Regions from separate parts of the Homo sapiens genome. Here region 2 is linked to region 1. A link means that fine-mapping ties the variant in region 1 to the expression of a gene that starts in the linked region. Tissue or cell type: prefrontal cortex. Region 1 holds a variant in brackets; the other region holds the start of a gene. All regions are shown on one strand. Distances are from middle to middle.

Evidence for each region. PIP is the estimated chance that this variant, and not a neighbour inherited with it, causes the effect.
Region 2: it holds the start of LINC02813, and the variant in region 1 is fine-mapped to the expression of LINC02813 in prefrontal cortex (ROSMAP, PIP 0.95).

What each region holds. Positions count from the first base shown.
Region 1 is chr1:224,736,806-224,742,178 of GRCh38, reverse strand. CNIH3 (cornichon family AMPA receptor auxiliary protein 3) reads right to left here. Exons shown (of 6, transcript NM_152495.2): 6 at 1,625-2,850. The coding sequence ends at 2,823. Among named protein-coding and RNA genes, the nearest start is that of CNIH3-AS1, 8.9 kb to the right of the region's middle. RefSeq lists enhancers at 4,938-4,987, 5,338-5,373. The variant G/A (reference allele first, on the strand shown) is at 2,664.
Region 2 is chr1:224,762,316-224,767,688 of GRCh38, reverse strand. It overlaps LINC02813 (long intergenic non-protein coding RNA 2813), which reads right to left and starts at 2,499. Exons shown (of 3, transcript XR_001738495.2): 1 at 536-2,499. It overlaps LOC124904523 (a long non-coding RNA gene), which reads left to right and starts at 4,721. Exons shown (of 2, transcript XR_007066898.1): 1 at 4,721-4,848; 2 at 4,929-5,373.

The DNA.
Region 1 (5,373 bases):
GTTCACCAACACCATCTTCAGGAGCTGACTCTGCCCCACTGGGAAGCTCTCTCCTTGACGCATGCTTGGAAAGGTGAGCTTTTTGTCTCTCAAGGAAAATATTCACTTTGTATTTTGGAAAACAGAGGAGTTTCTCCTGCTTTTCCTCTCTTCTTCCCTTTGGTCACTTCTGTGGGATACACAATAAGAGACTGGGCAATAAGAACAAAATTATGTGAGAAGAGGCGGACTTGGGTTTAAATCCCAGCTACAGCTAGACATACCCGTTGCTAGCTGTGGCTCTCTGCAAGTGACTCCTCTTCTCAGTTTCCTCATCTATAAAAGAGAGATCATATCCACCTTGTGGTACTGTCATGAGGATCAGGGAAAAGCATATGAAGCATCTAGATCACTGCCAGGTGCCTTGGTTTATAACTGTCATTATTTGGCCACTTCTTCGTAGCATCAAGGCCTTGTTCTGCGCTACTTCACCTAGGGAAGACTCACCTTCCCTGAGGCTCCCTAGTTCTCTCATGGGTGACGTGGGGACGAGAACAGCTAACCTGCTGTGCATGATCACTGTGAGGGGTGGGTGAGGTCACCCCGTGAGCATTTAACACAGTGCCTGGCGCACAGCACGTGCCCCATCAACTGTGCCCTTTACTCTTATCTTTATCATCATGATTAGCTTCTCCCAGGAACTGAAAATTCACTGAAACTCCCAACAGATCACGAGAATTACTTCCCAATCACAACTTGTCGGAGGGAAATATCTGGATGTTTCTCTTTCATAAACATAAGAGCTGTCAGGCCAGTGGCAGTGGCTTAGCCTATAATCCCAGCACTTCGGGAGGTGAAGGTGAGCAGATTGCTTGAGTCCAAGAGTTTGAGACCAGCCTGGGCAACATGGCAAAACCCCATCTCTACAAAAAATACAAAAATTAGCCAGACATGGTGGTGTGCACCTGTAGTCTACTCGGGAGACTGAGGTGGGAGCAACACCTGAGCCCAGGAGGGTCAAAGCTGCAGAGAGCCATGACTGCACTACTGCACTCCAGCCTGGGCGACAGAGTGAGACCCTATCTCAAAAAAAAAAAAAAAAAAAAAGACATTTCTACTTCCATTTTAATGGTCTTTGTGTACTTGTGTCTCCTATTATGAGCCACTACAAATCTTTCTGAAAGAAGACAGAGTATAGAAACAAAACAGCTCCATGGTGAGAAGTAACACAGACCATTCACCTTCTACATCCAGTTGCATTTGCAGGACGGCTGTGCGATTAGATTAGCGTCTGCAGCCTGCCATCCAAGGCTTGCCTCTCTGGATGAGGGTCACTAGTCTTCTCAGGAATGAAGCCAAAGCCAGGCCCAAGCAGCCGAAAGGTAACTCTATCCCTAACAACAGTTACCTGGTCGGTAAAAAGGGCATTGGCCAAGAGGAAGCCTTCTCCCAAAATCATCACCTCAAATTCTCCAGTTTTATACCATAAACCTCAGAGTAAAAGTCTGCATTTTGTTTTCCACAGAATTTTTAGCAGCATGATGCCTTTTTGAAAATTTGCCTTTTCTTCCTATCAGTTTTCCAACCATATGTAGACAAATTCAGCTGTAATGGTTGAAATGAGAGAGCCAGTTAAGTGAGACACTCAAGTTGTCGCTGCATTTTAATAAACATAGCACACAATGTGTTGCTACACAAACACCATTCATAAACCTGAGTCACAGGTTTCAGATGGGAGCTGGGGACGTGTATAAATAGCCTGTGTATGTTAAACAGTAGAAAAGAAAAGAAGTTTGGGGAATAAGGTCAAAATCATTGTGCCCAATTTAAACATCATAAAAATCTCAGCCTTGTCATTATTTACAACCCCCAGCATAACTCCCACCCAAAAGAGAATGCCAAACGGAAAATTCTAAATAAGATGATGTCCTCACGTCGACCTAAACAGTACAAATGATGCAGCATCATAAAACAAAGTTATAATTATGTTGTCTCACTTCCTGGCTGCCGGATGCCCACGGTACAGAGCAGCCACTCCACAGGATTTTCTGAGCTCTGAGCTGTCTGGGGTTTTTGTAAGAACATAGCTTTGACTAGCATTGACCAATTGATTTGCATTTAAAGACTCTGTGATGGTTTGAGGTGGCAAAAGAAGAATACAACTTGTGTGGTGGAGAACTAACACCTTGATCATGTTGCAAACGTTTCAAAAATGCATTTTTCCTATATTCACCCCTCCTCAGCTGAAAATAGCCCAGCAGGCTCAAGGCTGGTTGCAGCTGAAGACAAATCCCACACACCCTCCAGCCCCTCCCATTTGAGAAAAAGGGCATGGCCATGGCTTGGAAGAAAGGCAACAAGAGTCTTGGGCAGCCAAGACATTCTCGAGGCTTTCAACAGGTCCCTGCAGACTTGGCCTTGACTCTGGGTCATTCTGTTCCTTAGCAAGCACCTTGTGGCCTTCCAGCCTCCGCTCCCAGGAACTCATTTGAACTTGCAAGGTGCTGTTCAATGAAGTGGATTCAGGAAGCAGCAATTCTCTCTCAGGAGAGGTCTAGTGTTTCGTCACCTACTCCCCCACACCACTGATGCTCAGAAGGGCTCTAGGACCCCGTGTGTGGAATTCGAATGCCAAAGATTGACAAACAGGGTGACACAGACACGCAGGGTTAACTCGGCTCCCA[G/A]CTGCTGCGTGATTCCAGCTCCCATTCAGTCTGACTGCCTGCCGGGTCTATTTCTCACGTATCCTCATTCTGGTCCCTCCTCCAGTCACCAGCAGAAATGCACCTCTCCGTCTCAGGCCTCTCCCATCTCAGTCTCTGATGATGTGCATGGTCTTTGCGTTAAGAGCTCACTAAAGTGTAGATCATGCTGAATGCAAAAAAAAAAAAAAAAAAAAAAAAAGAGAGGAAGGTGTTAGTAGAAGCCCACAGAGGACTCAGGCTGCCCCTCAGGAGAGGGACCTTCCAGAGGCCAGACCCCTTGGCTTCTCCCTCATTCCTGTCACTACAGCATCTCGCCAACTCCACTACTGTGCCCCTTCTACTTCCCACAACACTGGAATAAAAATTTTTTGGGAGAGCATATTGTATCCCTTGGATAAAAGATGTGAAAGCTCTAAGTGCCTATTATCATTCTCATCAGGATGATGATTATGGTTGTTTTCCTTTTTGTGCAATTGCAGGGCAGGTCTGGGGGTGGAGGTGGGGGTGCAGTGGATTCTTTATGCCACCAGCTGCCATGTGCTTGCATGATGGCTGTGTCCAGGGGCTCCCAGATGATGCTGGATAATACGGTAGTGCTGGGGGAAAGATCATCATCACTACTGCAAAGGCCAGCGTGGGAACATAAGCCCTCTGGGCACCAGAACTCAATGAATTCTTGATTGGGTAACTCCCTGGCCCTCTTATTTTTAATGGACTCCAGGAATTAAACATGCATTAAAAGTGTGTGACCTAAAGTATTGCCCCAATACTACTAAGAGTGGGGTGAAGGGGACATGTATCCCTGTGCGCTTAGTAAGGGCTTCAGGGTAATTTTGCAAGGCTGAGGAATGATCTGCACCAAAATATACCTCTTTGTCTATTTCGCAGAAAAAGAAACCAACTATCTTTTCACATTATAGTGAGAAAAAAAGATTCATCTAAGAAGTAAAACCAAAGGAAAGAAATGAAAAGGTTTGACTTCTAACCCTTTGCAGCTGTGGATGCCCAATGAGCTCCTCTGAGTAGCTCAAGTTCCATCTTCAGGAACCTCACACACCTCATGTACACAGAGAACCACTGGTCAGACCTGGAGCAAGAGGGACTTACTCTACTTGGGGAAGCTGAGGGCCAGATGAGGAGTGACAGCAGGGCGAGAAGCCACATTCTAACTCCAAAGCCAGTGCTTTTTGCATAACAGTACTAAGCCTCAAGTGGATACCTTTGTTTACTCACTTTCATTCGTTATGCCAGACACTATTCTCAGTGCTGGGGAAAATGGTGAGTGTGCAGCCCCAATTCCTGCCTTGAGGAAGCATACAGCTAAGCTGTAACAACAAACCACGAGGATTCAGTGAGTGCCAGGCACGGGCCAGGACACTGCAGACGCAGAGGTGAATGAAACCAACATGGTCTCCAGTGTCAAGGAACAAGTAAATCATAAATAACATAGATGGAGAGAAATAAACCTGAGGAGGAACAGGCATGATCCAGAATAACCACGCAGGAGGGTGGTCCTACTACTTCAGGTCGGAAAAAAATCTTTCTACAGAGCAGACACTGTTCACACTGGGCTCACTAGCTAGTATTAGTATCTGCATTAGCTAGTCCCCTTCTAACACAACCCTCAAATATCACCTGGTCCACAAGGCAACCTGAGAAGTGGGGTGATGGGTGCCATGCGGTTCAAACAGGATAGAAGAAAGAGCACAGGCTCTGAAGCCAGATGTTGCTAATTATTAGCAGGGACCTGAGACACATTTCTTAACCTCTCCGAAGTCCTCAGGAGCCCCTCAGGGAGCTCAAACTATAAACTATCAACCCCGTCTTCCCCGCTGTTGTGTGGGTCTCTAGCCCTGAGCTCAGTTCAGACATGGCTCTGCATACACGAGTCCCCTTCCCTCCCTCCCACGGTGGCCTGCGCTGACGCTGCTGTGCTCTCCACCAGCTCCGGATCTGAGGGGCTGGCAGCTCCTAAGGTGGGAGAAACAGAGTCTTTTAAGCAGCCCCAAAGAGCACCAAGGGGCCAGATTCAACAAAGAATGTGGGTGCCCGTGGCGGCCACCCAGGGTCCCAGTGAGGCTGCAGGAACTGTTTCCAATTTTGTTTTAGAAACAGAGTGATTAACACATGTATCATGAAGGCAGGGCCAAACTGAAGTAATGAATTAGAGGACAAACAGTCAAACAGACTGTCTGGAACACACTCGGTTACAGAACAATCACACCCATCTAACCGAGAGGAGCTGCCAAGACCTCCCTACCCCACCCCCTCCCACCCCCGCAGCGGAGCACGCACAGCCGCTTCCCTCCCTGTGAACTCATATGGCTTCTTCCCTGCGACGCCTCGGCTCCAGCAGTTACTGCAACAAAACTGAAATGAGGGAAAGTCTCGCCTCTGTCTTCATCCACACTGAGGTGGATCCCAGGCTAAAGGGGCAGGAGCTAATGAAAACAATGGTCTCATTCTGTTGGCTTAGAGGAGAGACAGTGCTGTCTCTGGGGACAGGCCACTCAGCCCATGACTCTGCAGAAGGGGAAGTCTGTGGCTCCACAAAGAAAGCAGGGTTGAGCACACTGCAGGGAAAAAACCTAACCTCCAAGGTGGCAAGTCCCTAAGCCCACGGCGGCTTTGTCCACACTCTGTAGGTCTCCCAAGACAGAAACCCATCTGACAAGCCTTTGGTTGTTAA
Region 2 (5,373 bases), 26 kb before region 1:
TCAGCCCAAGCGGGCAGTCTTGTGGGGTCCTTCAGGCCTACAGTGCATGTAGAGCTGCCTTCTCTAGTGTCTTCTTCTCACTGCCTCATTGTCAGCAGGTGAACCAAGCCCCTCTCCTCAAAATAACGTTTCTGGAAGTTTCTCTATTCTTTTTTTAATGATAAGAGACATGGTAGCAGAAATAACTTCTGCTCCTGCAAAATCACCCTTTTAATTCCTAAACTCAACTTCTCCATCAGCTGCAGGGGTGATGGAAGGAGGGGCTGGAGGCAGGGAACTGTCATGCAGGTTGCATTAAATCCCATTCTGTGTGCAATTAGACAGCCTTGTACAGATTTCTGGAAAGGCCACCTGCCCCTTCCTTGCACAGCCTGCTTTAGCTCTGCAGATTACTCTGCTTCTGCAGCTCTCCTCCCACCAGCACCCTCTTGCCTCCCCCAGCCTTGCACTTCACAGCCGTTGCCAGCCAGCATCCCCGCACTGTAACAAAAGCATGCATTTTGGTTCACAAAACAGCTTTCCATCTCATTTTTACCTGGGAACAAGTCAGTGACTTGATATCATAGGAGGTGTCTTCTCCATTTTACGAATAGCAGAAATGAGGCTCTGGGAGTTGTAGTGACTTGCCCCAGGCAGAACCCAGACTCAAGCTTCCTGACTGCACACATGCAGGCACTTGGCGGACCACTCAGCCTCTTGGGGCACTTGAAAGTCTTCTGGATAAACCTCCTGAGATCTGGTGCACCCTGACCCACCAGCCCCATTGTTGAAAATTCCAGATTAGAGATCTTTCATTTGGTTGGGGCGTTGGGTCTGAGTTAAAATGCACTGCCCTTGGAAGAGGTGGCACGTTAGGCTTCCATTGGATACTGAGAACATATTGATTAGCCTCCATGCTCAGAATGCCCCTCACAAAGTGGAGACGGGGGGCTTAGGAAAAGAAGTCAGTTTTCTTGAGGATCAGGAAAGGAAAGGTGGAGTGGGGCAGGAAACCCCAGAACTGGGGCATTGAGAACACCATGGCATCTGGGATGGGTGAGTGACATGAAAGTGATCAGAGAAGGAGAGGAAGGCAACATCAACTCCAGACCTCATTAACTACCTATTCCATAGACTGTACAGGCGCCACCTGACTTGAAATTCCCTCTCTGCTTAGGTCTAAAAGGCCAGGGACACAACCCGCTGCCAAAGAGGGGCAGGTGAGACAATCAAGCAGGAGCCCCCAGTTTGTCTTGCCCTCAGATCCTGCCTCTGCTTTTGCACAACACTGACTGCACGGTGGGGAAGCTGACACCTTTCCCCATGCATTGACCTAACACAGCCAAAACCTTCCATCTGTGTGGTCAAGGCGAGGAGTGAAGTCACAAGCAATCTCATTGTCATTAAGCTCATGCAGAAGAACTTGGAATCCCAGAAGATTAGAATCCAGTCTTAGTGTCTACATCCTACTATGTCTTATTCCCCCTATTCAAGCATTAACTTGCTTGGAGAAAAGACTGTTTCTCTTTTCATCCTTTTCTTACCACCTCCCTACCCAGCACAGATTCCCCTCAAAGCTAACAAAGTCTGCCTTATGTGCTTAGAAAATAAAACTTAAAAAAAAGCTTAGTTAAATATATGAAAGAAATGAACACATTGAAGCTGTCTTCCCTAACTCTACACTTTGGTAGTGTCTTATGGAGAGTGGGAACAGAGTCTTAGTCCTCTCTGCATCGTAAGTACTGGCTCGATGCCTGACGCGCAATACATGCTTGTTGAACATCCACTGGATGCTGCTGCTCCATTGTCCCTTCTTTGGTCTTCATGGTTTCTCAGGCTGTCTGTGGATGTTTCTTGCTCTTCTGGGGCTAAGGCTCATGCTTTCCACAATGAGGAGGCTGACACCCCCGTGCTACTGTGCACCTGCTTACTGCCAGCATGATCTCATGTGTCTCTGCTTCTTCTTCTTCCCATATCACATCTGTTCTTCCAGCTCCCCACGTCTAACCTTCTTCCCTTAGACATATTCTCCAAGTAGCTCCTCCTTGTCCTTCTCCCACTTGCTGTATCCCCTTCACCAGCCCAGCTCGCCTACTAACTCCTTCGCTGACCACTCAGGTCCCACTAAAGTGGTGGCTCCATTTTCTAAATTCTCAGTGTGTTTCCAGTCTGAGCCACATGGTTTAGCCCTCTGCCAACGGTGTGCTGCATTATCTTTGGTGATCTGTGCTCCATAAGCAAGTTGAGCCTGCCTATCCTCACACTGTGCTCCTCCAACCCATCTGCCCCTCCTTCCAGCAGTGGAAACAGAAAAGATGCCCAATTATTGGGTAGCAATTATTCATTTTCATGCCCTGGGCTTACACATGAGAAGAAAGTATAGTATCATGAAGTATTTCTCAAAGGATGGAAGTCATGTCACTTAAATCATATTCTCCTGGCAGAGGGATAAAGAGGAACCTGTTAAAAATTCAGATTCCTGGAGAAATAGGAACGCTTTTACACTGTTGGTGGGAATGTAAATTAGGCCAACCGTTGTGGAAGGCAGTGTGGTGATTCCTCAAAGACCTAGAACCAGAAATACCATTTGACCCAGCAATCCCATTACTGGGTATATACCCAAAGGAATATAAATCATTCTATTATAAAGATGCATGCATTCATATGTTCATTGCAGCACTGTTCATGATAGCAAAGACATGGAATCAACCCAAATGCCCACCAATGATAGACTGGATAATGAAAATGTGGTACATATACACCATGGAATACTATGCATCCATAAAAAGGAACAAGATCATGTCCTTTGCAGGGACATGAATGAAGCTGGAAGCCATTATCCTCAGCAAACTAACGCAGGAACAGAAAACCAAACACTGCATGATCTCACTTATAAGTGGGAGCTGAACAATGAGAACACATGGACACAGGGAGGGAAACAACACACACTGGGGCCTGTCATGGGGGGTGCAGGGAAAGGGAGAGCATCAAGATAAATAACTAATTCATGCAGGGCTTAATACCTAGGTGATGGGGTTGATAGGTGCAACAAACTACCATGGCACATGTTTACCTATGTAACAAACCTGCACGTCCTGCACATGTATTCCAGAACTTAACATTAAATTAAATTGAATTTTTTTAAAAAATTCAGATTTCTGGGCCTTGCCTCAAGCCCATCAGAATCTTTGAAGGTGGGTCCAGGATCTGAGTTATCACAAACTACCCCAGATGATTCCTAAGCAAACCGGCAAAAGAGCTACTAAATTAGTGGTTCGGAGCCTGGGTCAACCATTGTTGATCCAGGCCTGGGGGCCTGACTGGGGGCTTGACTGGGTTAGACTCTCAGCCAATTTATTTACTTCCCTGTACTTTACTTAATCATCAATAAACTGGAGGCAAAAATAGCCCCCACCTCAAAGGACTGTTGTGAAGATAAGAAAAACACTGAGCAGGAAGCTTGGCAAAGAGTAAGTGCTCAATAAACAACACTTTGGAGCTTTTGAAGAAAGAAAATTCTTCACAATTCTTGCTGTTTCCTTCCAAGTGGAGGGAGCCCCATTAGCACAACACTGTCAGCATCTCTCTACCACTGCACTCACTCTGCCACAGGGAAAGTCGTGTGATACCTCATCGATTAACTTGGGAAGAGCAAATTGGAAATGCTTGGCTCAGTTGCTCCCTTTTCCTCTTAAGAATAAAGCTGTCAGATGGCACAGTGGCTCATGCCTGTAATCCCAGCACTTTGAGAGGCCAAGGCAGGAGGATTACCTGAGGTCGGGAGATCGAGACCAGCTTGACCAACGTGGAGAAACCCCGTCTCTACTAAAAATACAAAATTAGCTGAGCATGGTGGCACATGCCTGTAATCCCAGCTACTGAGGAGGCTGAGGCAGGAGAATCGCTTGAACCCAGGAGGTGGAGGCTGCAGTGAGCTGAGATTGTGCCATTGCACTCCAGCCTGGGCAACAAGAGCAAAATTCCGTCTCAAAAAAAAAAAAAAAAGGAACTGTCCCCAAATAGTACACATCCTCCATTGTTCTTCCAGGAGCGAACTCTATCCTTGTATGAGAACGAAGTCAGGGGTAAGGGAGGAGGAGGAAGCTGATGTAACTCTGATCCACCCTGCTTCACTCTTCCCAGGCCCAGCTGGGCTATGATTGCGTGAGTTACCAAACCTAATTCCAGGATTCAGTAGTAGGAAACTATAGTGGCATGGCCCCATTTACTGTCACTGCTTGTAACCCACTGGGGACTTTGTGCTTCCTATCCCTTCTATTCTGGGCTTTTCAGGTTTAGAGGTCCAGGTTCCAGAGGGGGAACCTTCCTACCAAAGGATGTAGCACATGCTGCCAGGACACTTGGGGCCTGTGCCAAGGAACCTCACAAGAAGCGGAGTCACCATCTTGGCAGAGGAAATTGGCCCTGACCAGCAGGAGGAAAGACAGCTGCTGTGCCCAGTAGGGACAAAGAAATCTGGCACCCAGATGATCCACTGTGCACCTCCTGGCACTTCCTCTGACCAGTTTTGATGATCAATGGGCAAGTTCATCAACCAGAGCCTGAGGAAGGCATAATGTCCAGGGACTGGAGTCATTAGAGATGAGGGTCTAGGTCACACCAACCGGCAAGAAGTGTGACTCAACCAGCAGAGGTGTTTCCTGAGGATGAGAGAGACAATGAGTATCAGTTGTGATGGAAGCTGTAGTTTGTCCCACTAATCTTTATTTTACCCTGCCAGGGAACAAGGCTGTGGGAATGCTGGAGATGCTGCTTCCGGAAATGTATGAAATATAGGTCCATGCAGTGAATGCTGTCATGAGCCTCCAAGATCCATCTTGGGGACTGAAGGTCTTCTCTCCCTCCATGGTGAGTGCTGCTGGCTGACAGCCCTCAGCGAATAGCCCTCTCTGGGAATTGCCTTTGACCAAAGATTGCTGCCTCCCCAGGTCACACCTCCTTTTCAGAAGCAGCCTGAACCCAATGACCAGCCCATATAGAAGTATAAAGATTCAAGAGAACAATTGTACAACATGGTGACTTTCATTAATAACAATCTATTGGAGTCTTGAAAATCGCTAAGAGAGTAGATTTTAAGTGTTCTTACCACAAAAAATGGTAAGTACGTGAGGTAATGCATATGTTAAATAGCTCGATTTAGCCCCTCCACAATGTATACATATTTCAAAATATCATGTTGTACACAAGAAATGTATAAAATTTTTATTTGTGAATGAAAAAAGTAATAAATACAACTGTGAGTGCTGCAAATAAAGAAGACGGTATAACTAATTTAGGAGGGTGTCAGAGAGTCATCTTCCAAAGTAAAATATGAACAGATACTATTTCAAACTAAAATATTCACATATAGCAGTATTAGCATTTTTTTTAGTT